Linked DNA regions of Homo sapiens. Changing the gene in region 2 together with the main gene of any one other region gives a genetic interaction. Each region holds a gene or a part of one and is shown on either strand. Other genes may lie near its edges. The genes, in order: BNIP1, EXOSC2 and RINT1.

What was found.
Region 1: changes in EXOSC2 (region 2) and BNIP1 together harm fitness more than expected from each alone (negative genetic interaction), as found in Homo sapiens cells (one large-scale study listed by BioGRID).
Region 3: changes in EXOSC2 (region 2) and RINT1 together harm fitness more than expected from each alone (negative genetic interaction), as found in Homo sapiens cells (one large-scale study listed by BioGRID).

What each region holds. Positions count from the first base shown.
Region 1 is NC_000005.10:173,161,513-173,165,020, reverse strand, and holds the end of BNIP1 (vesicle transport protein SEC20), read right to left. Parts: intron 2,949-3,508; coding exon of another isoform or gene 2,876-2,948; intron 2,710-2,875; coding exon of another isoform or gene 2,697-2,709; exon of another isoform or gene 2,661-2,696; intron 1,297-2,660; coding exon 1,100-1,296; 3' UTR 634-1,099; downstream 1-633. UniProt on the Homo sapiens protein: As part of a SNARE complex may be involved in endoplasmic reticulum membranes fusion and be required for the maintenance of endoplasmic reticulum organization. Also plays a role in apoptosis.
Region 2 is NC_000009.12:130,696,774-130,700,424, reverse strand, and holds part of EXOSC2 (exosome complex component RRP4), read right to left. Parts: intron 2,844-3,651; coding exon 2,798-2,843; intron 2,264-2,797; coding exon 2,174-2,263; intron 1,097-2,173; coding exon 1,031-1,096; intron 1-1,030. UniProt on the Homo sapiens protein: Non-catalytic component of the RNA exosome complex which has 3'->5' exoribonuclease activity and participates in a multitude of cellular RNA processing and degradation events.
Region 3 is NC_000007.14:105,552,655-105,556,305, reverse strand, and holds part of RINT1 (RAD50-interacting protein 1), read right to left. Parts: intron 1,279-3,651; coding exon 1,079-1,278; intron 1-1,078. UniProt on the Homo sapiens protein: Involved in regulation of membrane traffic between the Golgi and the endoplasmic reticulum (ER); the function is proposed to depend on its association in the NRZ complex which is believed to play a role in SNARE assembly at the ER.

The DNA.
Region 1 (3,508 bases), on a different chromosome or scaffold from region 2:
TTAGAGGTATCAGCCACCACACCTGGTTGAACAGGGGCTGTTGGACCCTCCTTCCTGATAGTCTGTGAGATTTTATTTCCGTGTCTCCTTCTGTTCCTCCTTGAGGGAGGAACCATGTCTGGTTCACCAATGTATTTGTCATGTTCAGCAGCGTCTATAACACCCTGTGTGTGGCAGCTGTTTAATAGTTCCTTGTTGTTGGGTGGGGACAGAAAGAAAATAACAATGCTAATTCGTTGTTGAATGAATGAATAAATAAATAATCTAGGTTCATGTCCTAAAAATCTGGACATCAAGAAAAGAGGGCTGGGCATGGTGGCTCACACCTGTAATCCCAGCACTTTGGGAGGCCAAGATGGGTGGATCACCTGAGGTCAGGTGTTCGACAGCAGCCTGGCCAACATGGAGAAACCCCATCTCTACTAAAAAAATACAAAAATTAGCTGGGTATGGTGGTGTGTGCCTGTAATCCTAGCTACTTGGGAGGCTGAGGCAAGAGAATCTTTTGAACCCAGGAGGCAGAGGCTGCAGTGAGCCAAGATTGCGCCATTGCACTCCTGCCTGGATGATAGAGCAAGTCTCCATCTCAAAAAAAAAGAAAAAAGAAAAGAGGAACACACATTCCCAGAGGGCTATCTTACAAAATCAAATACATTTTATTCTATTAAATAAAATCAAGTTTATTCAAGGAATGACCAGGAGTTTTCATCACCTTTCTTCCTACCTCTTCTCTCTTCCCTCCACCAGATCTGGCATTTAAGGGCACGATGGGAGCGGGAGACAGGAGGGGCATCCGGTCCTGGAGGCTGGACTTTAAGTGCTCCACGCAGCAGCGGCCTCCCATAGTGCACAATGGTGGAAGGAGGCGGTTCGTATGTCCCCAGGGCGGCATCCCAATGCCAGACCTTCCTCCCATGGCTCTGTTCACCCTTTACAAGCCAGCTACTTGCAGAAAAGTGGGGCACTGTGTTCCATCCAACCTGCAGGCAACTGGTGCAAACGGAGGGGTGTGTGGCTCAGCTTAGCAGCCTAGAGCTCAGGAACCAGGACAGATCCTGAAACAGGAGCTGAAAGGGCCAGAACTGGCACCTTTGGGATCTCACAAAAATGGAAAGAGCCGCTTTTTCACAATATAGAGGACCGTAGCAAGAAACAGGGCTAGCGCAAGGAAGATGAGAAGCTTGTCCGTCAGCTCCCGGCGATTGTATTTTGTGATAAGCTTCCGGCCCAGCTGGATGGTGCCCGACATGGACTTAAATTCTTCATTTGCATCCAGGATCGTTCGTGAAGAAGTGACTGAAACAAAAGAGGAAGGAGGCCCAACTCAGAGACTGCAGCTCAAGATCCAAAGACCTCACTCTGCTGGCTGGGGTGCTGATAAAAACCAGCATTCTCAAGTGAGTTCCTCTGAGCTGGAATCAAAGCATGTGGAGACCAGCCAAGGAGCTGACAAGGAAAGGCTCCTCCCCAGGTCCCATCAGCTCCAGAGAGTGAGGGGGGGTTTGTCTGGGAGTCCTTGAACATGAGCGTCACCAGGGAGAAGGGCAGAAGAGGCTTGCTCACCCAGCCACCTCCTCAGCTCTCTGAAGCAGATGGACGCTGCTCAGGGAAACCACCAGCCACAAAATCAACCCAGGGATCGTGGGCAGGCACTGTGAGGTCTGTGTTGGGGCAGCAGCCAAATGCACCAGAACCTTCCACCTATGAGGTGCGGCCTCCAGGACATCTGCTGGCCAGACCGGCACTTTGCAGGATCTCAAAAGGGCAAGGGTGTCCCGGGCTCTGCCGTAAGCCCTCACACATACCAGTCCCTCAGGCCAGGGATACTGGCTGTAGCTTTAAGGAGGTGACACCTAAGAAGAGGCCCACGTCCCTTAAGGAATCACTGTCCCCAGAGTCAGATGTATTTCTGAATATGGGTATCTGGGCCTGACGCTGAGGGTAGAAGGTGTACCTGGCGAGGTTCTCCCACAAAACATAGCAAGGCATCATCAGAACAGCCATTGAATAGAACACATTAAGTGAAAAGGGAAAGTATAAAGGAACGCCTGTGAAATGTTTCCATTTAGGTAAGAAACAGGGAGATAAATGGTATTTCATTTGCTTAAGTTACAAAAGCTTGGAGGATCACAAGATATTTTTTAAGACACTGGTTACAGAGGTTGCCTCTGGGAAGTGGACCAGAGGGCTGGCAGGTAGGGGTCAGCTGGAGGTCAGAACAGAGAGTGATCTTTTTTGTGTCCCTTTTGTACTCTCCAGAGCTGTGCTGACCAATATGGCAGCCCCTAGACATGCGAGGCTGCTGTGCATAGAAAAACGTGGCTAATGCAAATGGAGATGTCAGGAGATGTAAGTGTCAAACCCACACAATGTTTCTTTTCTTTTTTTTTTTGAGATGCAGTCTCACTCTGTCACCCAGGCTGGAGTGCAGTGGCGTGATCTTGGCTCATCACAACCTCCACCTCCCAGGTTCAAATGATTCTCCTGCCTCAGCCTCCCCAGTAGCTGGGACTACAGGCATGCACCACCACGCCCAGCTAATTTTCTTTTTGTATTTTTAGTAGAGACAGGGTTTCAACATGTTGGTCAGGCTGGTCTCGAACTCCTGACCTCAAGTGATCTGCCCGCCTTGGCCTCCCAAAGTGCTGGGATTACCGGCATGAGCCACCGCGCCTGGCCAAAATCCACACGATGTTTCAAAGACTTAATCTAAGAAAAAGGAATGTAAAATATCTCAATAGTTTTTAATATTAGTTTTACATTGAAATTATAATATTTTACATAATGGGTTAAATAAACATCTTACTAAAATTAATTTCTTATGTTTCTTTTTACTTTTTAACATGTGCCTACTGGAAAATTTAAAGTTACATACGTGGCTGCTGTTGCGTTTCTATGGCAGTCCTGGGCTAGAGTTTTCTTATCCTTCTCTATGCTGTATGTGTTACCTTTTTAAAAATTAAAAGCTAATAAGTAAATAGGATAAATTATCAGAGGAAACACAGCAGCGTTTTGAAAATGACAGATAAAAGGAGAAAAACAAACACTCACAGAACAGGAATCCCTCTCCGCCTGCTTTCTCCACGCCTGCCTGCTGCGATTTCAAAACCCTGAGATCTTGCTAAGTAAAAATCTAATAGGCCTTTCTTTTTAAACTTTATTATTACGGAGAATTTTGAACCATCACAGAGCAGACAGCATAATATCATGAAATGCCATGTGTCCACCACCCATAACCAAGAACCACCAACCTCTGAAATCCTGCTCCCCCTCCCCCCAACTGCAACTACTCCTGCAATTGTGGAGCAAATTCCAGACACCATATTCCTAATAAGCTTTTTGTTTTAAAATTATGGTCCTAGTAGGCTTTTAAATCAAGCTGAATTTGTGAGGCATAAGGAAAGGGTTAAGAACTGTATTCTTCTCTTTTCTTCAATAGTTATCGCTTGTACAAAATGGGCCCCAAGAACACCGGGACCCTCTCAACACCCCAGAAGCCACCAGCATT
Region 2 (3,651 bases):
TCCCACCATTGCACTCCAGCCTGGGCAACAAGAGTGAAACTCCGTCTCAAAAAAATAAATAAATAAATAAATAAATAAATAAATAAATAAATAAAATAAAGACAGAGGCCAGGCATGGTGGCTCATGCCCGTAATCCCAGCACTTTGGGAGGCCGAGGTGGGCAGATCACCTGAGGTCAGGAGTTTGAGACCAGCCTGGCCAATATGGTGAAACCTGTCTCTACTAAAAATACAAAAATTAGCCAGGCATGACGCACGCCGGTAATCCTAGCTATTTGGGAGGCTAAGGCAGAATTGCTTGAATCCAAGAGGCGGACGTTGCAGTGAGCCGAGATCGCGCCACTGCACTCCAGTCTGGGCAACAGAGCAAGACTCCGTCATTAAAAAAAAAGAAAAATTTAAAAAATAACATAAAATAGAGACAGAGTCTTGTTCTGTCACCCAAGCTGGAATGCAGTGGTGTGATCATAGCTTACTGTAGCCTTGAGCTCCTGGGCTCAAGCAACCCTCTGGCCCCAGCCTCCTGAGTAGCTAGGACTACAGGCATGTGCCACCACGCCCGGCTAATTCTTTTTTAATTTTTTTGTAGAGAGGGGGGTCTTGCTATGTTGCCCAGGCTGGTCTTGAACTCTTAGGCTCAAGCAGTCCTCCCTCCTTGGCCTTCCAAAGCGCTGGGATTACAGGCATGAGTCACCACACTCGGCCTGTCATTAATATCTTGACGTGAACAACACCTTCTCCACTCCCTGCGCTAAAAGTTAACACCATTAACAAAAGCCTAGTCTAAAGCACAGGCCACCGTAAGTTACAAGACCCAAAGAAATGACTTAGCAGCAGGTCCCAACAAGAGCTGGGGAGTCAGCCTGAATTAAGGAGACTGAGAAAGGATGCAGCAGAGCCCGACACTTGGTCTAAGACTCGGATCCCTGCAAGGATGACATGGTTCTTCCGTCAGAGACATACAATGGAAGGCCCATTTCCCAGTCCCACAGAAAAGCATCAAGAGGCTGGAGTGCAAAGCGCAGGATACACTGATAAGGTCCCCTTCCTGTAAGAAACCTCTCATTGCAAGCTCATCTTCTGCAGATCTTCTCCTCTGAAATACACAAAGAAATGACATTACTTAAGCCAGATCCTCAGAAAGGTCTCCATCACTTCTCTTTCACTTCCTTTTGAGATGTTTGAGGCCAACCACAATATTCAAGCACTGAGAACTATAGCAAGAGTAGGTAACCCAAGCCACTTGAGGGGAATCAGTGATAATCACGACTTTCCATCTCAAAAGACTTTTCCACAGCTCCTCTTCCTCTTTCCCTCCCTTCTCTGAGGAACATTCAGACCCCTCCCAATCTCACCTAGCCAACATTTCCATAGTCATCTTCCATGACAGCCCTCTGTGGTCCAGCAGGACCAGACTAACTCCTGCTTGGATATATCTCTGCTCATACATTTCCCTTTATCTCAGATTCCCTGAACTAGTCATTCAAAGTCTCTCCATCCTTCCAGGATCAACTCCAATGCCTGTCTTTCCTACAAGCTTCTCTCACTGAAATTTCCTTTTGTATAACCACAGCTTATTTATTCTTCTACTGCCAGGGACTAGGTCAGTTATCTTATATCCCCTGCTGGGGAACTCAATCGTGCTTGGCACTCGGCACAGAGCTTGGCACAGTAAGCCTCTCTGTAAATACACGCTGGACTGAAGATCAAGGTGAACCATGGCATTTTACAAAAGGCTGTGGCTTAGTTACTGTGGTTGTCTGGAATGCCAGCAACCACATTCCACACATGGTTGAATGAAATGCCTTTCAATTCACAAAAACCTAATGTAAAGACAACTTTTCAAGGAACATCTTCACTATGCAAGGCTGTTATATCCAAAAAGGAAAACTGTTAACAACCAGCATCTAAGGGCTTCTCTCCCCAACTCTCTGTTGGGATCCCACCCCATGGATGTTTCTGATCCTACCATATGCCAACTGCTCCCTCTTTCGGGAGACCTGGACAGGGTGAAAAGTCTACATACACATCTAGGCAGCAAACTTCACAGCAGACAAACAGGAGTCAAAGGGGCAACCTCAGTGTAAATCAAAGTCCTCTGGTGGAACAAAGGGTCCCACGGCTCCCCCCAGCCCACTGGGCCCTAGTCCATGGCCCCAGCTGTAGCCCTTACCAGCTCTCCTCCAGGAAGGTTCATGGACGAGAGCAGCAAGACCGAATCCAGCCTGGAGTTGGTCTCCACCTTCCACCTCTTCTGTTGAACCTATAAGCCAAGTTCCACACCTGGACACATGCTCCATGTTCATGTGTCATATCATAAATAACCAGTAAGGCCAGATGTGGTGGCTCACGCCTGTAATCCCAGCACTTTGGGAGGCCGAAGCTGGTGGATCACTTGAGGTCAGGAGTTTGAGACCAGCCTGACCAATATAATGAAACCCCATCTCTACTAAAAATACAAAAATTAGCTGGGCGTGGTGGCGGGTGCCTGTAATCCCAGCTACTTGGGAGGCTGAGGCAGGAGAATCGCTTGAACCTGGGAGGTGGAGGTTGCAGTGAGCCAAGATCATGCCACTGCACTCCAGCCTGGGCGACAGAGCGAGACTCCATCTCAAAAAAAAAAAAACATGAACCAGTAATCTGAAATCGAACAAGCCACATATTTACATCAGAAGCCACACAACGGCCAAATGCAATGAATGCCTTTTTCATGTAACTACAAGTGGAATGACTGTCCCATGAATGAAATCGCCAGCCTGCCTCGACTTTGTAAACACCAATCTGATATCGACGTTACCTCTGTGATTCGTCCCACTACGATGTCTCCTACTTCACCAATGTATCTGAAAGACAAAACACAAGGGGTTCATCCATCTGTGAGCAGACTTTCTGACAAGACCACACACCATTTGAGATGTCGGTTCAACAGGGTGAAAGCCTGGAACAGGCGCCACATTCAGCAAATTCATGTAACTATATTGTCTGGACTTACTTTCAGAAACTGCTAACTTCAAACATTCCTCCACGTATAAAGTCTCCATTAACTATCCTTAGACATATCACCATTCCAAGTAGTTCATTTAGCCCAAAAACCCTATTTTGTTCGATTACACGACAATGAAAAACACGGACTATTTTCCTGTGGCACATGGATGAGTTCTGCACCAGCCAAAGGAAGAGAAAGGAAATCTGAGCCAGGACTCCAACCACACAAGTCTGCTCACGTCTCCTCCACTTACTCACTGCCTGCTCCTCTCAAGCCCCTTTGCTAGTTCCTTACCCGCGATTCTAATGAGACGTACTCAGTGCTGAGGCTAAGTCCTTAGACCTCTTCACTTTTCGGCCACTCAATCTAATACCTTTAAAACACCACTCTGTGCTGTGACTGTGCCACTCTCCTGAATTCCAAATCCTACTCAACTGCTAGCTACCCAACTCTGCCATCTAGATGACTAACAGGCATTTTCAAATGTATCAAGCACAAAACTAAGCTTTCCCGCAGCCCCCTCCAGTCCTCCATAGCAAACCGAGATAGGGGATGAGTTGTCCCCATCTCAGTCAACGGTGACTCCATCCCCTCAGTTGCTCAGGCCAAAAACCTCGGAGAGTTCCTTGATTCCTCTCTCTCTCTCACGCTCCAGGACAAGTCCA
Region 3 (3,651 bases), on a different chromosome or scaffold from region 2:
CACCTGAGGTCAGGAGTTTGAGACCAGCCTGGCCAATAAGGTGAAAACTCGTCTCTACTACTAAAAAAAAAATTAGCCAGGCATGGTGGCGGGTGCCTGTAATCCCAGCTACTCAGGAGGCTGAGGCAGGATAATCCCTTGAACCCAGGAGACAGAGGTTGCAGTGAGCCGAGATCGCACCATTGCACTCCAGCCCGGGCAACAAGAGCGAAACTCTGTCACAAAAAAAAAAAAAAGAAGTTGAGTGATAGCCACGCCACAGAAGTTCATTTTCCTATTCTATTTACTCTTGCATATATTTGAAAATTTGATACATGAAATGTTAGTTTCTTATTTTTATTTTTTGTAGAGACAGGGTCTCACTATGTTGCACAGCTGGTCATGAATTTCTGGGCTCCAGTGATCCTCCCACCTCAGCCTCCCAAGTAGCTCGGACTACAGGCATATGCCACCACACCTGGCTAATTTTATTTTATTTTTTATTCTTTGGAGAAATGGGGTCTCCCTATGTTGCCCAGGTTGGTCTCCAACTCCTGGGCTCAAGCAATTCTCCCATCTCAGCCTCCTAAAGTGCTGGGATTAAGAGCATGAGCCACTGCACCCAGCCAAATAGATTTTTAATGTATGAAACAATTAAAACTTTAAATGTTTCTTCCTATTTTCATGACTCTTTATAATCTGTCATGTTTTGAAGACATTCAAGAGGTATTAAACATTATTCTTTTATTTTCCTTAAAGTCCTGGATTGCTTTTGACATCATTATTTAATCTTAGCTCTTCCTGTGATTGCAATTACCATACATGAATATTTCCAAGTATGGTTCACTCTATAAACAACTATTTCATGAAAGGCTTGCTTGCCTTTCCAATGATTAAATACATTAAAATATCAGGACTATTTAACTACTTGAGATTTGATTGAGAAAAATGTGTATTTTAATTACACCTTTTAATTATGGCACTATGGTTCTGTCTAGCATGTTTATTTTTGCTTGCAATAGATTCAACATTTTGAAAAGTATTAATAAAATAGTTCGAACTAGTATATATTACTTAATATAAAAGCATATTAACTCACAACATTGTCAGCCCAATCTGCTAGTACTGTTGAGATGTAGTTCACAGCATTAAGAATTGCACAGTATCGAAAGCCAAGGGAAGCTCTAGTCTCTTCTTTCATCACTTGTGTTAATCGTATCCTAAAATCATCTACTAAGTCCTTCTGTAACTCCAGGAACTGAAGCTTTCGGGAAGCTGTGGGAAGATTTTTATACCTGTCTGTGGAAAAAGTTATTAAGACATATGAAGGTTTTGGTACCATCTATGATATAGTTATAAGTTTTCCCTACTGTCCTGCTTCAGTGCTTTTGTCAAAAATCAATTGACCAGTAGTCAAGAATGGATTTATTTCTGAGCTCTCTTAAGGATGTGAGTTTCAAAAGTATATACATTTGCCAAAACTCATTGAACAATACAAATAAGATCTGCACATTACACTGTATGTAAACTATACCTCAAGTTTTCAAAAAGGCAAATGAAAAAATTATACATAAAAATGACAGTTTTGGCCAGTCGTGGTGGCTCACGCCTGTAATCCCAGCACTTTGTGAGGCCAAGGCAGGTGGATCAACTGAGGTCAGGAGTTCAAGACTAGCCTGGCCAACATGGTGACACCTCATCTCTACCAAAACTACAAAAATTAGCCGGGCAGTAGTGGCGTGTGCCTGTAATCCCAGCTACTTGGGAGTCTGAGGCAGGAGAATTGCTTGAACCCGGGAGGTGGAGGTTGCAGTGAGCCAACATGGCACCACTGCTTTCCAGCCTAGGCAACAGAGTGAGACTCCATCTAACAAAAAAAAAAAAAGAAAGAAAAAAAAATGACAGTTTCTTCAACACAAATAAACAGCATTTTTTTAAAAAAGAAAGAACTTCAATAAATTAAAAGATACACATTTAAGAATTTACAGGCAGTTGGCCGGGCACGGTGGCTCACACCTGTAATCTCAGCACTTTGGGAGGCCGAGGTGGGTGGATCACGAGGTCAGGAGATCAAGACCATCCTGGCTAACACAGTGAAACCCTGTCTCTACTAGAAATACAAAAAAATTCGCCGGGCACAGTGGCTCACGCCTGTAATCCCAGCACTTTGGGAGGCTGAGGCGGGTGGATCACGAGGTCAGAAGATCAATACCATCCTGGCTAACACGGTGAAACCCCATCTCTACTAAAAATACAAAAAATTAGCCGAGTGTGGTGGCGGGTGCCTGTAGTCCCAGCTACTCGGGAGGCTGAGGCAGGAGAATGGCGTGAACCCGGGAGGCAGAGCTTGCGGTGAGCTGAGATGGCGCCACTGCACTCCAGCCTGGGCGACAGAGTGAGACTCCATCTCAAAAAAAAAAAAAAAAAAAAAAAAAAAAATTAGCTGGGTATGGTGACGGGTGCCTGTAGTTCCAGCTACTCAGGAGGCTGAGGTAGGAGAATGGTGTGAACCCAGGAGGTGGAGCTTGCAGTGAGCCGAGATTGCGCCACAGCACTCCAGCCTGGGCGACAGAGCGAGACTCTGTCTCAAAGAAAAAAAAAAAAGACAATTTACAGGCAGGCATGGTGGCTCACGCCTGTAATCCCAGCACTTTGGGAGGCCGAGGCAGGTGGATCACCTGAGGTCAGGAGTTCGAGACCAGTCTGGGCAATATGAAACCCCATCTCTAGTAGAGCCGCCACCATGCCTGGCTAATTTTTTTGTATTTTTAGTAGAGACGGGGTTTCACTGTGTTAGCCAGGATGGTCTCGATCTCCTGACCTCGTGACCTGCCCACCTCAGCCTCCCAAAGTGCTGGGATTACAGGTGTGAGCCACCGTGCCTGGCCAACTGCCTGTAAATTTTTGTATTTTTAGTAAAAATACAAAAAAAAATTAACCAGGCATGGTGGCAGGCATCTGTAATCCCAGCTACTCAGGAGGCTGAGGTAGGAGAATTGCTTGGACCCAGGAGGCGGAGGTTGCAGTAAGCCGAGATTGCGCCATTGCACTCCAGCCTGGGTGACAAGAGCGAAATTCTGTCTCAAAAAAAAGAATTTACAATTGACATGATGAGATGTCTGAAATTTTCTTTGAAATACTCCAGAAAAAAAAAATTGAGGAGTAAAATATAACAGAAAAGTGATAATTGCTTTAAACTTTGGCAATAGGTACCTGAGAGTTCATCATATTATCCTACTTTTGTGTATGTTTGAAAATTTTCTGAATAAAAAGTTTTTAAGAGACATGAATTTTCCTTAATTTTTTTGTCTTAGTATTTTTCATATTTTTCTTATAGTTAAAAATATGGAATGATGACTGGGCACGGTGGCTCATGCCTGTAATCCCAGCACTTTGGGAGGCCGAGGCAGGTGGATCACAAGGTCAGGAGTTCAAGACCAGCCTGGCTAAGATGGTGAAACCCCGTCTCTACTAAAAATTCAAAAATTAGCTGGGCGTGGCAGCAGGTGCCTATAATCCCAGCTACTTGGGAGGCGGAGGCAAAAGAATTGCTTGATCCTGGGCAGCAGAGGTTGCAGTGAGCCGAGATCATGCCACTGCACTCCAGCCTGGGTGACAGAGTGAGACTCCATCTCAAAAAAAAAAAAAAAAAAAAAAAAAGGAATTATTTAC